Regions from separate parts of the Homo sapiens genome. Here region 1 is linked to region 2. A link means that fine-mapping ties the variant in region 2 to the expression of a gene that starts in the linked region. Tissue or cell type: cerebellar hemisphere. Region 2 holds a variant in brackets; the other region holds the start of a gene. All regions are shown on one strand. Distances are between the middles of the regions.

Region 1 (8,100 bases), 82 kb after region 2:
CAAAAATCAGCTGGGCATGGCGGTGCACACCTGTAATCCCAGCTACTCAGGAGCCTGAGGCACAAGAATTGCTTGAACTCAAGAGGCGGAGGTTGCAGTGAGCCGAGATTGTGCCACTGTACTCCAGCCCAGGCAACAGAGGGAGAACCTGTCTCCAAAAAAAGAAAAGAAAAGAAAAAATGAGCCAGATGTGACAGTATGCACCTATAGTCTCAACTACTGAGGAGGTTAAGGCAGGAGGACTGCTTGAGCCCAGGAATTTGAGTCCAGCCTGGGCAACACAGCAAGACCCAAAAGGTGCATAGGATAAGCACTTCTTATAAACACATACAGGATAGATAAGCACTTCTTATAAGCACTTACATACAGGATAGATAGAATGTTTATCCGGACAGTTAGGATAAAAAAGCATGAAGAAGGACTTGTTAAATGGAAATGCGGAGAAAAGGCAGTATGGAAAAAAATAAATTATTTTCACTTAGAATGGTGTATGTAAACACTGCAAATTCTCTAACACCTTAGAGAATAGCACAGAGAGGGCTCGGTTGGTCAGTAAGAAACAAGAAGCATTTTATGTAATTTATTTTATTTTATTTTTTTGAGACGGAGTCTCGCTCTGTCACCCAGGCTGGAGTGCAGTGGCGCGATCTTGGCTCACTGCAACCTCTGCCTCTCAGATTCAAGCAATTCTCCTGCCTCAGCCTTCCGAGTAGCTCGGATTACAGGCATGTGCCACCATGCCCGGCTAATTTTTTTGTATTTTTAGTAGAGATGGGGTTTCATCATATTGGCCAGGCTGGTCTCGAACTCCTGACCTTGCGATCCACCCACCTCGACCTCCCAAAGTGCTGGGATTACAGGCATGAGCCACCACGCCTGGCCTATTTTATTTTCTTAAAAATAAAATAGGAATTCAAGCTGGCCTTGAATTCCTGAGCTCAAGTGATCCGCCTGCATCAGCCTTCCGAAGTGCTGGGATTACAGGTGCAAACCACCGTGCCCAACTACAAAAACTTTCTATCACTTTGACAGTAACTATTACAAACTTAGTATCTCAAAATTATCAGTACGTCTCTGAAAACACAATGCCTTTACCAATGATTTTTAAAATCGTTCTGTGGTATTCTTTGTAAAAACTCCAAACCCCAGTCTAATCATGAGAAAAACATCAGGTAAACCCCAAGTTTAGGGGAGGGGAGTATTCTACCAGATATCTGGCAGCACTTTTCTAGACTGTGATGGTAATGAAAAACAAAGGAAGACTGAGAAACTGTCACAAACCAAAGAAAACTGGGAAGACATGACAACTAAATACAATGTGGTAACTTGGATTCTGGAACAGAAAAAGACATTAAAGAAAAATTGGCGAAATCCAAATAAAAGTCTCGAACGTTTCATAGTGCCAAAGTCAGTTTCTTAGTTTTAACAAATGTACTGTAATAACGTAAGATGTTACTAATAACTGGGTGGGAAGTATGAAGAAACTGTATCTTTGTGACTTTGCTGCGCAACTAAGATACTCCAAAATAAAGTTTATTTTTCATTATTATTATTATTTTTTGAGATGAAGTCCCGCTGCTCTTGTCCCCCAGGCTGGAGTGCCCTGGTGAGATCTCGGCTCACTGCAACCTCTGCCTCCCCAGTTCAAGCGATTCTCCTGACTCAGCCTCCCGAGGAGCTGGGATTACAGGAGCCAGCCACCACGCCCGGCTAATTTTTGTATTTTTAGTAGAGATGGAGTTTCAGCATGTTAGCCAGGCTGGTCTCCTGACCTCAGGCAATCCACCCGCCTCAGCCTCCCAAAGTGCTGGGATTACAGGCTTGAGCCACCGCGCCCGGCCTAATAAAGTTTATTTTTAAAAAAAACAACCAAGGGACAGTCACCTAATGGGCTACTACTCAGCAACACAAATAATCTACTGATAATCTACAGATAAAGACAACAGGGATGAATATTAAAAATGTGCTGAGTTAAAAGAAGCCTTTTATACCAAAGAATGCATACTGTATGATTCCATTCATGTGGAAAGTCTGGAATAGACGAAAATAATCTATGGGTTTAAAAAAAAAAATCAAGATCAGCCGGGCGCAGTGGCTCACGCTTGTAATCCCAGCACTCTGGGAGGCCGAGATGGGCGGATCATGAGGTCAGGAGTTCCAGACCAGCCTGACCAACAGTGAAACCCCTTTTCTACTAAAAATACAAAAATTAGCTGGGCGTGGTGGGCGCCTGTAATCCCAGCTGCTCGGGAGGCTGAGGAAGGAGAATCGCTTGAACCTGGGAAGCGGAGGTTGCAGTAAGCCGAGATTGTGCCACTGCACTCCAGCCTGGGCGACAGAGCTAGACTCCAAAAAAAAAAAACCAAGATCGTGGTTGGCTCTGTGGTGACTGGAAGACGATTTGAAAGGACAAGAAAAAACTTTTGAGGGTGATGGCGATGTTCTACATCTTGACAAAAGGTTTAGGTTACACAGCTGTATTTTTGTCAACGTTCATCAAATTGCATACTTAAGACTTGTGGGTTTATACTGATGTGAATTTTACCCTCTAAGATTTAAAAAATAGTAAGCGGTACTGAGCTCTATTTAATATGCACATACTAAAGTTGGAGGGGTCTCCAACTTTACTTTGAAATGCATCGACAAATAAGGTAAAATGTTAATTACAGAATCTAGGTGGAAGTATAACTCTTTTTCACCTTCTGTTTGAAAACGTATGTGATAAAACCTTGGGGGAGAAAGGCACTGACTACTCGACCTCACTTATCACCACCGATAATCATTTTCTTTTGGAGTCTTTCCTAAACTCCTTGGGGCTTATTTCTAATCATGATCAGCATCTGCACGCTCTCGTATATGTAAAAGAAATTAATGAATTATGAGGGCCTTTCTAGACAATCATGAGCCATGTTTCTGCCAACCCTTGCTGTATTTGATGTGCTTTGATGTACTTCTACTTTGTGCTTTGATGCACCTCTACATCAACCTTCGCTGAGCACAAGGCAATTCCCCCTCCTTTGAGTCCTTAGATTCCCACCCAGTCTGGGAATTCACGATAGAAACACGACGGGACACAGAACTAATATAACCAAGATGCCACCACAAAATTCAGTTAAATGTGCTGAAACATGAGGCGGTAAACTGTGTCCCCGACTGTTTCGGGTTTCTGAACCAGCAGCTTTGTCTACGAAACACACATTCAGGATACCGTGTAAGGGTTAGAACATGTTACCACCACCAACTGTTGGCAGTCAAGACAGTAGTTGATAAGCCACCCGTCTACCAATCTCCCTCTTTCTGCCTAGGAACCATGGCGCGGACGGAAAAACGAAGCCATGGTGACTAATCCTCAGGCTCCAGGAGGTGACTGGGGTGAGTGAAGGCGACTTGACCCAATCAGGAGCGCCGCAGGGGCGGAGCAGCAGCCTCGAGGCTTCCAGAAGGGGCCAAAAGCCTCTCGCTGGCTACCTGACACCGGGGCTTCCCCGCCGCCAGGCCCCAAGTGGCGTCAACTTTCCTCCACCAGAGGGGGACCGCGCTCCCCGCGCCCCCCAGGAATCCGACTTCCTCCGCAGCTGTCACCAGAGGCCGGCGCGGGGCCCGCCCCGCTCCATTCATAACCAGGACCCCAGCCGTTGCAGCCCACAGCGCCGCCCGCCCGCCGGGCTTCGGGAGGCAAAGGTGGCGGCGGCGCACCGCGGAGTAGGGGCTGCGGGACCCCGGCCCCTCAGGGCTGCGGCCGGGCCCCCTCCCCGGAAACAGCAATGCACCACGGGAGAGGGGTGGGGGCCGCACGCCGCCAGGAGGGGACGGCGACCCCCGGCGGCGAGACCCCCGCGCGCTCCCCCACTGGCACACGCCCCCTCGCCCCAACTGCTGCGGCTCCGGCTCCGCCAAGCGTCCAGCAGCCGCCCGAAGGTCCTGAGGCGCGGCCCGCCGCCCAGCCCCGCCGCCGCCGCCGCCGCCGGGGGCACAGACAGCCGCCGCCGCCATGTTCGAGGCGGCCGGCCGCGGGGCGCTGCGGGGACGTCTTAAGGGCGGCGGGGCCCAGCCGGAGCCCCCCAGCCGCCCCCCAAGGCCAGCCCCGCGTCCTGGCCCCTCCCGCGCTCCTCGGCTCGGTACTCACGTGAGATAACGGCCCAAAGAGTCGGGTAAAGCGTCTTCTCTTTTTCGGCGGAATTTTTAAAGAGGGATGTGGTTACCTTGAGCAGAAATACCCAAGGCGGCCTGGGCCATAGGCTGCGGGAACGACTTGGGGGTAAAAGCGCGGCACCGACACCAGCTGTGTGCAGCAGTGGCGGCGGCGGCCGAAGGAGAAATAGAACAGCGCAGGCAAAAGAAGAAAGGCGCGGGCTGGGTGGGAAGAGGATTCGGACTCGTCACACTGCAGAGCAGCAGAGCGAGAAAGGATGAGAAGAGGCAGAGAAGGCGACGGCAGAAGAAAAAAGGAAAAACTGCGGCCGCGATCAGAGCCTGAAAGTGTGAGAAGGCGGCGCCAGCGACGCCAGTATTTATATTAGGGGGCGTGGCCTGGTGACATCACAGCTGGCCGGGCAGCCGCGCGAGCGGGGCGGAACCCGGTTGCAGCCCGGAGAAAAGGGAGGGGGACGGAAGAGGAAGGAGGACTGAGCCCGGGAGAGAGAGGGGAGGGGTCGGCGCGCGACCGGGTCATGCAGGTGCAGACTGGCCGGTCGCTTCCCGCCCTCCAGCCACCCGCAGCTCCCCGGCAGGCGAAGGGCGGCCGCGCGGGTGTGGGCCGAGAGAGGGAGGCGGCTCGGCTGGAGCGCGCCGTCCGCCCGACCCCCGCCGCCTCTCGGGCGCCTGCGCTCACGCTGCGGGGCCCAGCGCATTGTGAGCCGGGTCGAGCTCCACGCTGGCAGCGTCTGAGAGCTGTCCTGGGCCGGAGGTGGCGCGAACCCTGTGCGGCCTAGAGTGGGCCTGGGGTAAGCCTGTCGGCGCCGCTGCCGAGCCTTCGCGTCCAGCTCCCTCCGCTTTGTGAGGCCTGTAGTTTACCCTGGGGAGTGTCCTCCCGGGCTGAGGCGCCCGCCCTCGGTGATGCGGTACTCCTTTAGGGAAGCGAGTTCCTCGTGGCCAGAAAGGACCGGCCCAGTGTCCGGGTGTTAAAAAGGGTTGTGACCACGTGAAAATGTCCTCAGTGCTCGAACGTTGCAATACGGTGCAGTGGAAATTTTTTAAAGGAATATGGCTTTTATGTCTTCATTTTTAAAAGGATTGGTGGAGTCAGTCCCAAGCAGGACCCGCGTTGGAGAGGGGATTACTGATGTTACAAGCGCACATTACTTCAATCCCCTAGGTCTCATTTTCGCGGTCGTTTTAATTTTTCTACTCCACAACAGACTTTTTTTTACTAGGGGTTCTAAGATTACCTACATAGCTTTTAATTTATTTTCATCTTTTTTAGATGCCTCAGCACTAATGATCATGATCAGAGACCCCGAGTTCTCTCGTGCTGCTACGCTTCGCAACACATAGCACAAATGGAATATGTGTTGACACACCCCTCTGAAGTTAAGATCTTTGATATTAAGACCCTGACTTTTTTCCCTTTCATTCTTCCGAACCCTCTGTGTACTTTGAGCAGCACTGTGGTTGATTAATAAATCATCAAATGTGAAAGGAAGAAAGCGACCTTCCTGTGTGGAAAAGCAGGGTATCTTGCGAGGCTGTATGAGAGAGTATTCGGTAGAATCAGGAGCTGTGGACGCATTCCTGATTTTGTTTTTCCTTATTTTGCTCGGCTATATCTTGGCTCTGTCTTTTATTTCTTCAAAGTTCTGTTCTATTCAGAACATTTGAAAACACAGCCATTCACTAGACCCTCTCTGGTGGAGGAAGAAAAACTAGAGATGAATACAATATTTGAAACCTTGCTTACAATCTAGCAGGGGAAATAAGACAGCAATACAAAATAAATTGTTGGCTGATACAAATAAAATGCTGCAAGGACCAAGTGGAGGGAAGAGATGATTGCAGCTAAGTGAGAGAAAGGCTGCTGGGGAAAGGTAAAGAGTGATTTTGAGAAAAGCCTTTCTAGACAAAGGTGCTTCCTTTTTCACCAAACTCGCCTGTTTGGTGATTTTGAGAGTAGATGTTCCAGTGTTCCAGGCAAGGGAAACGGATGAGAGAAGGCACAGAAGTGGGTGGGTTTAGAGAATTGTGAATAGCCTTTCTGGTTCCAGCATAGGGGCATGGTTGCAAATGAGATTGAAACGGTAGATTAGGGTGACATCAAGAAGACATTGGAGGCTGGGCGCAGTGGCTTACACCTGTATTCCCAGCACTTTGGGAGGCCGAGGAGGGCGGATTACCTGAGGTCGGGAATTCGAGACCAGCCTGACCAACATGGAGAAAACCCGGCTCTACTAAAACTACAAAATTAGCTGGGCATGGTGGCACATGGCTGTAATCCAGCTACTCAGGAAGCTGAGGCAGGAGAATCTCTAGAACCTGGGAGGCGGAAGTTGCAGTGAGCCGAGATCACACCATTGCACTCTCCAGTCTGGGCAACAAGAGTGAAACTGCGTCTCAAAAAAAAAAAAAAAAACAAAACAAAAAATTGGAACTTGGACTTTATTCTGGAACCATATAAACAGGAACATGATATGCTCAAAAATATGTTTTTTAAAAGATTACTCCAGCACCAGTGGGTGGGATTGAAAAGAGGTAGAAAGTTTGGAAGTGAAGGAAACTCTTACAGCAGTTTTCTGGGGTCTTTTGGTTTACTTATTTATTTATTTTAGTACTAAGGGGGCCGGGCGTGGTTGCTCACTTGGTGGCCTAGTGATGGTGTGGTGGCCTAGCACTTTGGGAGGCTGAGGCGGACGGATCACTTGAGGCCAGTAGTTTGAAACCAGTCTGCCCAACATAGCAAAACCCTGTCTCTGCTAAAACTACAAAAATTAACCAGGCGTGCTGGTACACGCATGTAGTCCCAGCTACTTGGGAGGCGGTGGCAGGAGAATTGCTTGAACCCGGGAGGCAGAGGTTGCAGTGAGCTGAGATCGCACCACTGCACTCCAGCCTGTGCAACAGAGATGTACTTTGTCTCAAATAATAATAATAATAATGAAAGTACTAAGGGGATTCAGAATGGATGGGAGGGAAAACGCACAGAGAGAGTAGAGATAATCTTGACTTTCAAAGGAGATGAGAAGGTGTCAAGTGATTTGGGGATATTAAGCTTATCAACAGGGAGAATTCTGGAGCCATAAACAGAGATAGAAATAGAAGGACCCTGCCAGGAGCAGTGGCTCACGCCTGTAATCCCAGCACTTTGGGAGGCTGAGGCAGGCGGGTCACGAAGTCAAGAGATCAAGACCACCCTGGCCAACATGACGAAACCCCGTCTCTACTAAAAATACAAAAATTAGCTGGGCATGGTGGCATGTGCCCTGTAGTCCCAGCTACTTGGGAGGCTGAGGCAGGAGAATGGCATGAACCTGGGAGGCGTAGCTTGCAGTGAGCCGAGATGGTGCCACTGCACTCCAGCCTGGGCGACAGAGCGAGACTCCATCTCAAAAAAAAAAAAAAAAAAAAAAAAAGAGGGAGTAAGATGAGGCTAGGTTTTTTTGCCTTTTGTGTGTGTATGTGACAGTGTGTCACTCTGTTGCTCAGGCTGAAGTGGAGAGGCATAGTCTCGTCTCACTGCAACCTCCACCTCCTGGGACCAAGTGATCATCCCACCTCAGCCTCTGAGTAGCTGGAACTACTGGTGCACCACCATGCCTGGCTAATTTTTTGTGAAGACAGGTCTTGCCATGTTGCCCAGGTTGGTTTTGACCTCCTGGACTCAAGTGATCCACATACTTAGGCCTCGCAAAATGCTGGGATTATAGGCATGAGCCATCACACCAGGCCTGAGGCTGCTGTGATACAGAGTTTTAGCTGTTGAAGAAATAGCCAGGTAAAAATGGTCCAGAGGCCTCTGAAAATGGGGAGATCTAGAACCCTTTGGGTGTGAATTTGGGAGCCTTTCCTACAGACATGATAATTAAGGAATTATTGAGGTATAGAAGAAAAGAGTATAAGCACAGGATCTAGAGAATGCCAGAGATAAAAGACAGCCGCAGAGAAGACCAA
Region 2 (8,100 bases):
TGCCCTTGAGGCAAGGCTGGCGCCCTCCAATCCAACCATGCACACATGCTGCGTGCACACTCATCACTCTGGCCGTGTCCTGTACATCGACTTTGAGTTTGTAAACTCTGCTCCATTCTTCCAGGATGAAGAGAAATAGCAGAGCCTAAAGCATACGCCTTTCGGCTTTCCCAGCTGCAGCGAGTTGTATTCATGTCCCTGCTGCCTGGCCTCTTAACTCCACTCTACTAGAGCATTTCTCACTAGAATAGAACTTCCAGAAGGGAAGGGCTTTGTCTATTTTGTTCTCTGCCATCTTCCTAGTGACTACCGTGGTGCCTGGAACACAGTAAAGGTCAAAAGTATGTATCAAACAACTACAATGATAACACTTCACATTACTAGGATGGCTATCATCAAAAAGACACCAAGTAGCCAGGTGTGGTGCTGCAGGCCTGCAGTCCCAGCTACTTGGGAGGCTGAGGCAGGAGGATTGCTTGAACCCAGGAGTTCAAGACTTCAGTATGCCATAATCTCACCTGTGAGTAGTCACTGCACTCCAGCCTGGGCGACATAACAAAAAAAAGAAAGAAAAGAAAAAATAACAAGTGTTGGCGAGGATGTAGAAAAATTAGAGCCCTCATTGCTGGTGGGAATGTAAAATGATGCAGCCACTTTGGAAAACAGTGTGGCGGTTCCTCATATGTTAAATGTATAGTTCACACAAAAGCCATCAATGCCACCCCTAAATATAGACCCAAGAGAAAGGAAAACAAGTGTTCAAACAAAAACTTGCACATGAAAGCTCATAGCGGCATTATTCATAACAGCCAAAAGGTGGAAACAACCCAAAATGTCCATCAAACAGTGAATGGACAAACAAAATCTGGTACTTCCATACAATGAAGTATTATTTAGTCATGAAAAGGAATGAAGTACTGATACATGCTATGACAAGAATTATGCTGTAAAAGAAGCCAGATGCAGAAGGCCACATGTTGTATGATTCCACTTATATAAAATATCCAGGACAGGCAAGTCCATAGGGACAAAAAGTAAAGTAGTGGTTGCCAGGCCCTGGGAGGAGAGGGGAATGGGGAGTGACTACTTCACAGATACAGGGTTTCCTCTGGGGAGGAAGATATTCTGGAACTAGACAGTGGTGATGGCTGCACGACATTGTAAATGTACTAAATGCCACTGAATTGCACACTTTAAAATGGTTAAGACGGTGAATTTTATGTTATGTGTAATTTACCACAACAAAAAAAGTTTCGGATGAATGAATGAATGAGTGAATAAATGAGTCTTCCACCGCCATGCCCTAAAGGCCAGGTGTTGACAAGGAAAGTCTAAGTTGTCTCCAGAGTCCGGTCCCCACCCCACCTTCATCCTTGCGGTACACCATCTGTCCTGGGAGGGCAGGCGGGGCCCAGCTCCAAGCTGAAAATGGGGCAGAACAAAGCTCCTTGGCTCTCCATCTGCTTCCAAATCTGGAAGACGGAGTGGGCAGTCACGCCCACCACTCAAGACTGCTGGGAAGACAAGCAAAAGTTCTCTGCACACCGTAGACCCGCAGTGAGTACTGCTTCCCTTCCAGTCCTCCACAGGGGAGCTATCGCGGGAGGGATTCCTCAACCCACACAGCACCTGGCTCGGGGTGGGCTGGCTGCATGTTGTGGGATCCTGTTGGGGCCTGGACATTTGCTGTGCAGGCGAAGTGCTGAGAACACCACCCCTCAAAGTTCCACCTGGCAGGTGTCCATCCCTATTAGTAGAGCCCACGGTTCCCAACATTGTACTGCACACAGCATGGCACTCCATTACTACCTAATTTCTTGAGGATCAATGAAAACACACCTGCTTTCAAGCAGTGGAAACTTCATCCCCGAAAGACAGTCCCTGCCACAGGCTGTGGCACTCTTGAGTGATGGGCTGCAGTGGTGGGGTGTAGTGGACAGCAGAGTCACTGGAACCTGGTGATACAGAAAATGGCAGAAGCCACTGGATCTGGAGTCCTGGCTCTGTCCTTAAAGGAGTGGCTTTAACCTGTATGCTCCTAGGCTTTTGTGAGAATTTAAAAAGACTAATGCGGGCCCCGCGCGGTGGCTCATGCCTGTAATCCCAGAACTTTGGGAGGCCAAGGTGGGTGGATCACCTGAGGTCGGGAGTTTGAGACCAGCCTGGCCAACATGGTGAAACCCTGTCTCTACTAATACAAAAAATTAGCCGGGAGTGGTGGCACATGCCTGTAATCCCAGCTACTCGGGAGGCTACTCAGGAGAATTGTTTGAACCCGGGAGGCGGAGGTTGCAGTGAGCAACAGTTGCCTGGTGACAGAGCGAGACTCCATCTCAAAAAAAAAAAAAAAAAGATGAATGCACCTAAAATGGTGTTATTGTGCACCCCTATACATTTTACCACTGTCATGCACCTAATGTGAGTGATCACTACATGTCAGCATGAGCATCATCTAACATCCTGCTCTCTTTGCATCAGAGCTGACTATAAATAAAAATTCCACTCTGTCCACATTCACAACCCATCAGGGAATCTTGATCTCAATGGATGGAAACCAGATTACATTGTAGTGATTCCACCATGACGGCGGCATCTGCTCCCTAACAGCCACTGTGGTGGGCATTTTCTCAAGGTCGTCTCTTTTGGTTCATTCTTCCAGGAGCCTTATAAGGTGTATTATTTTCTCCTCTTTATATATGAGGCTGAGAGGTTAAGTCACTTGCACAAGATCACATACCCAGAAAGTGAAGGCACTTCAAAGACTGCACCCTTCCCATTCATTTATTCATTTATCCTACAAGATTCATTAGGGGCTGACCACTGTGCTGGGCCCTGGGGGAGCAGATGACCAGACCTGGCCCTGGGCCTCACTGAATGTACCAGCTAGAAGAGAACAAGTAGACAGATGATTTCAATGATGAGGGGATGCGAGTGACCCAGTGAGGAAGAGGGGAGGGCTCTCCAGGAACATCAAGCGCTTGTGTAGGCAGGGGTAGGAGACAGCCTCAGGGAGGGTGGGAGGATGGAAAACTGCAGAGAGTTTTGATTACCTGGAGAGCAAGGGAGAAGAGTGGGTACCCACAGTGGTGGTCAGGCCAGATAACAAAAAAGCACTCAAATCATGATGAAGAGCTCAGAAGCCATCCCCTGGGCAGCCGGGAGTCACTGATGAATTTTAAGCGGGGGAGTGATACGATCAGATTTTCTGTTTCCATGTCCTTTGAGCCTGCAAATGTTCCATAAGACCCACAAAGCAGCTGTAATGCAATCCCCCTACACACCTTCCTGGCCTGTTCATTTTTCACCCACATACATTTAAGAGTCTTGCTCATAGGTCAGGAAACAGGCTCTGAGGCAGACTTACATGGGGCTTACTAGGGAGATAGCTAGAGCTACGCCTGCAGGGAAGTCAATGAAGCAGGATTGGGTAGGGCAGAGGCTGAACTGAGATGCATTTGCAACAGAGACCTCAACTGGTCCTGTGGAGAGCTCAGAAGCCCGGATGTCCCAAAATAATGCAAGGGGCCAGGTCTGTGTACCCCCTCATCAACAATTATTGTATGCAGGTGGCACGGGGCCCATGGCCTTGGACCAGGCAGCTCCCTTCGGCTGAGGGCAGCGTCTGGGGAGGGACTCAGCTATGAGCAGTTAGCAGGCCACACTTCCTGCTACTGGGGATGGAGGTCCTGGGTCGTGCAGAGGGTCTGGGTGGGACACTAGCGTCCATTGCAGCCTGCTTGGCT[CA/C]GAGATCTGTGCCAACAAGTCTTGATGTGTGCTGTTTCCTGGCTCTTGCCCCCATCTGCTTCTGCAGGAGCCAGTCCTCTGCAGAGTTCCCCTTGAATATGTCAGGACAGCAGCCAAGACACAATTCCTATCTTTTTCCCCCTCTCCTCTTCTGCCAGGGACCAGCTCATGTACTTCCGCAGTACCTGTCAAACTCTTCCCCCACCACTCTACCTGGCTGCCTATACATGAACAGACAGAGCTATGCAGTCTTCTGTGGCAAAGCGGGGTACAGAGTATTCCCCTTTGTGGCACACTCCCCTAAAGGAACCCTAAAGAACTTTTGTGCCCAGCTACTCAGGAGGCTGAGGTGGGAGGATCCCCTGAGGCCAATTCGAGACCAGCCTGTGCAACATAGCAAGACCCTATCTGAAAAACAAAAAAACTCCTAGGCTTCAGTTTACAGGGTTAGCTCCTTGACTTACTCCCTGCTGGGCTGGGGAGTTAAAATACCTAAAGCTGTGTTTCTCAATCCTGGCTGCCCAGTAAAATCCCCTGGGAAACATTTTATAAATATCAACGCCTGGGTCCCACCCCCAGCCCAATGGCATCAGAAACTTTGAGGGTGGGGCCCAGGCACTGTGTTTTTTAAAATTCCCCTGGTGATTCTAAATATGCAGCCAGGGTTGAGAACCAGTGACTTTGATTTTTATTTACATGGATCAGTCTGGGTGTGTGGAGGGACAGAGGTGATTTGGAGGAGAGCTGTGAGGATCCAGAAGATGATGGGAGTGGAAAAGAGGAGGTAGAGACTCAGAAGCAGAATAAATAAGGGAGCTGGGTAAAGGCAGAACAAGAAAAGCTGGAGGAATCACCTGGGGAGCTAAAGGAATGCTGGGAATGAGCTCCCCACCACCAGGGATCCCTATTTGATCGGTACAGGTAGCTGAGCACTGGGGAAAGACATTCAAAACAGCCAGGTGATTTCAATAGGCTGCAAAGCTGAGAGCCGGAGCTCCAGGCCATGCCATGGCCTCTTATCTGGGAGCCTCACCACGCAGGTGTCCAGGTGGCCTCCACCCAGTGTAGACAAGCCAGCCATGCTTCTCGCCACCTGGACCCTGGGGTGAGGTCTTGAGCAACATCAATTTCCATCCAATCTAAACTTAAATATGGGCACGCCCAGCCTCCCTCCTGGGAAAGCGTCTGAGTGGAGCTGTTCTGCATGACCTGGGTGGCCTTTTGTGACATGTTCTCAGGGGACTCTGTGCTGGGCTGTCTGCTCCTCCTGCCTAACTGTATTGGCACATGGTTTATCCTGTTCAGCATTTTCTTATATAGGTAATCTTTTTCTAAAAAAGAAATTGCTTGTTTTCTAAAGGCAAATGTAACACACTATTTTCCCCAAAAAAAACATGAAGTAGAAAATGAAAATCGCCCTTAATCTCAACACCCAAAGGTGACGCCAGTTGAGAACTGGAGAACCAGCAGCTGACCTGGTTGTCACAGCTGGGGCTTGATGTCCCATTGAGCACAATCAGCGTCTCAGAGCACCAGCACCAGCCAAGGCCACTGTGACTGTGAAGATCGAAACAAAAACAAGAGCACAGTCCAAACCACAAAAATAACCCACCATCCCCCTATCCTGGCTAATGGGTGACTATTTTCTTTGTTTTTGTGTGTGGTTGTTGTTTCTACCAATTTATAGCCTCAGTCAATTCATCTCCATAAGAACTATTAGACACTCATCTCATCCAATCCAGAGCAAAGATCTGCTTCCTTGCACCATCCCCAAGCTTCCAGCTACCTACCCCAGGCCCACATCTTATTATGAGTCCTTTCCTGCTCCTCTTACTGGGACACCCCACGGTTCCCATGGTGTGCGTGCTTCCAAACTGCAATAAGCTGGTAAACCCAACTCCACGTGTGGTCCTGGTGGTCTCTGGCTGGGGCGCATTGACACCACAGAATTTGGAAAATACCCCTCTAGACATTATTTTTTCTATGAACATAGATATATTTTTATTTTAAAAATGAGAGAGGACTGCAATTCTTTTTTTTTTTTTTTTTTCTTTTTTGAGCCAGGATCTCACTCTGTCACCCAGGCTGGAGTGCAGTGGTGTGATTATAGCTTACTGCAGCCTCTAACTCCTAGGCTCAAGTGATCCTCCTGCCTCAGCCTCCCAAGTAGCTGGGACTACAGGTATGCACAACCACGCCCAGCTAATTTTTAAAGTTTTTATAGAGATGGGGTCTCCCTATGTTGCCCAGGCTGCTCTCAAACTCCTGGCATCTAGCAATCCTCCCACTTCAGCCCCTCAAAGCACTGGGATTACAGGAGTGAGTCACCACGCCCAGCCAAGAGAGGACTATAATTCTATTTTGCACTTTAAAAAAATGAGCAATCTCTTAGGAATATTATTTGAAAGAGCTGTTGTTGTACAGATGTTGTAGGCTCACTAATACCACTTTCTAAGTGTGTGATGATATGTTTCTTTAAGGCTTTTGAGAGCAGGATCTAACGCTTTTTTTTTTTTTTTTTGAGACAGAGTCTCACTCTGTCGCCCAGGCTGGAGTGCAGTGGCACGATCTCGGCTCACTGCAACCTCCGCCTTCCAGGTTCAAGCGATTCTCCTGCCTCAGCTTCCCAAGTAGTTGGGACTACAGGTGCGCACCACCACGTCCAGCTAATTTTTGTATTTTTAGTAGAGACGGGGTTTCGCCATGTTGGCCTGGCTGGTCTCGAACTCCTGAACTCAGGTGATCCACTTGCCCTGGTCTCCCAAGGTGCTGGGATTACCAGTGTGAGCCATTGCACCCAGCCCTAATGCTTTTTTGATATCAGCCATGGACTGCTGGCTTTCTTTGGCAAATTCTGAGAAGGATCACCTCTTTACCAGGCTTTGGGTGTGGAGAAGCCACAGGTGAGGGCGGAGATACTGCAACCATTCCCCATGGGGCAGGACACAGGGCCTCTCAGGTGTGGCAGGATAAGTGGCCACACATGCAGAGCCAAGCTTCAGAGCTGGCTTTGAAAGGAGGTTCTCACTCCCCAGCCCCAAAGGTGGCTCCCCCAAAGATCAGGCATGTGGAACGCATTTCACTCTCAGCTTTCAGAATACCCACTGCATTAGAGGGGATTCATTTGGGCTAATAAGGCTTGGAAGCCATTTGGCAGATTTATGTTTCAGAGAGAGGTTCTCCAGGGCAGTGGAGCCAACAAAATTCGGAAACAGCAAGGTCAGTTCAGCTCTGTTAACTAATTCAACACAAGTCCGTTAAATCAATGCCAGGCAATGGGCCTTGTTCTAGCTGAGTGCTCCTCAACCTCTGCTTTGTACCCAAATCACCTGGAATCTGCTTACGACAGACAGATTCCCTAAGTCTGGGTCGGGTCTGAGATTCCGCATTTCCAACAAGTCCATGAGTGCTGCTGATGCTGCCAGGGAGTCACCAGGCCCTTGCTGTCCTGCCAGCATTTGCTACCCCCCTAAGTCTCCTGCAAAACCCCCCTCACTGCCTGCCAACAGGAGCAGAGAGTGTATTGAGGATCACATGACATATTGAGACCTCTCTTCCCACAGTGGAGAAGTCTTCCAGTCCGTGCATGGATGATGCCACCACTGGCTAAATGTCCTCTTCTCCAGCAGTTGAAACAGTAGCTTTGGCTGGGCACAGCAGCTCACGCCTGTAATACCAGCACTTTGGGAGGCTGAGGCAGGAGGATTGCTTGAGACCAGGAGTTTGAGACAAGCCTGGCAACATGGCAAAACCCCGTCTCTACAAAGAATACAAAAAGTAGCTGGGCATGGTGGCACACACCTGTAGTCCCAGCTACGTGGGAGGCTGAGGTGGGAGGATCACCTGAGCCCAGGAAGTGGAGGTTGCAATGAACTGAGATCTCGCCACTGCACTCCAGCCTGGGTGACAGAACACCCTGTCTAAAAACAAACAAACAAACAAAACAAAATGAACCCCAGCAGCTTCGACATCCCTCCCTCATGTGCAGCTGTACCTGGGTGATATGAGACGACACAGACAGGGAGGGATCCCACCTTCCTGCTGGAGAGTTGCCTGGGACTGTTAACAGACCTGCTCCTAAGGAGCCCTGTTCAAGGACCAAAAGACCTAGAGGCCCTGGAGCTCCAGACTAGTACCCTCTGCCCATCTCTAGGATTATCTCCTTATAAAAGTTCATTATTCCAAATTGAGAGATCAAAACACAAGTAGGTTCAAAAGAGTTTAGCTTCACGCCACTGCACTCCAGCCTGGGCAACAGAGCAAGACTCTGTCTCAAAAAAAAAAAAAAAAAAGAGTTTAGCTAACTTCCTGATGGACATATTCAGAAAACGCCACTAAGACGGGAAATCCAGCTGG

What was found. PIP is the estimated chance that this variant, and not a neighbour inherited with it, causes the effect.
Region 1: MAILR starts here. The variant in region 2 is fine-mapped to the expression of MAILR in cerebellar hemisphere (GTEx, PIP above 0.99).

The regions. Positions count from the first base shown.
Region 1 is chr8:102,859,681-102,867,780 of GRCh38, forward strand. MAILR (macrophage interferon regulatory lncRNA) reads left to right here and starts at 4,591. Exons shown (of 3, transcript NR_126339.1): 1 at 4,591-4,943. It overlaps AZIN1 (antizyme inhibitor 1), which reads right to left and starts at 4,483. Exons shown (of 12, transcript NM_148174.4): 1 at 4,127-4,483. RefSeq lists enhancers at 2,627-3,360, 4,829-5,561 and silencers at 3,710-3,939, 4,600-4,949.
Region 2 is chr8:102,777,961-102,786,060 of GRCh38, forward strand. LOC124901999 (a long non-coding RNA gene) reads right to left here. Exons shown (of 2, transcript XR_007061040.1): 2 at 1-1,955. Among named protein-coding and RNA genes, the nearest start is that of GASAL1, 25 kb to the right of the region's middle. RefSeq lists enhancers at 3,611-4,110, 4,789-5,289. The variant CA/C (reference allele first, on the strand shown) is at 3,744.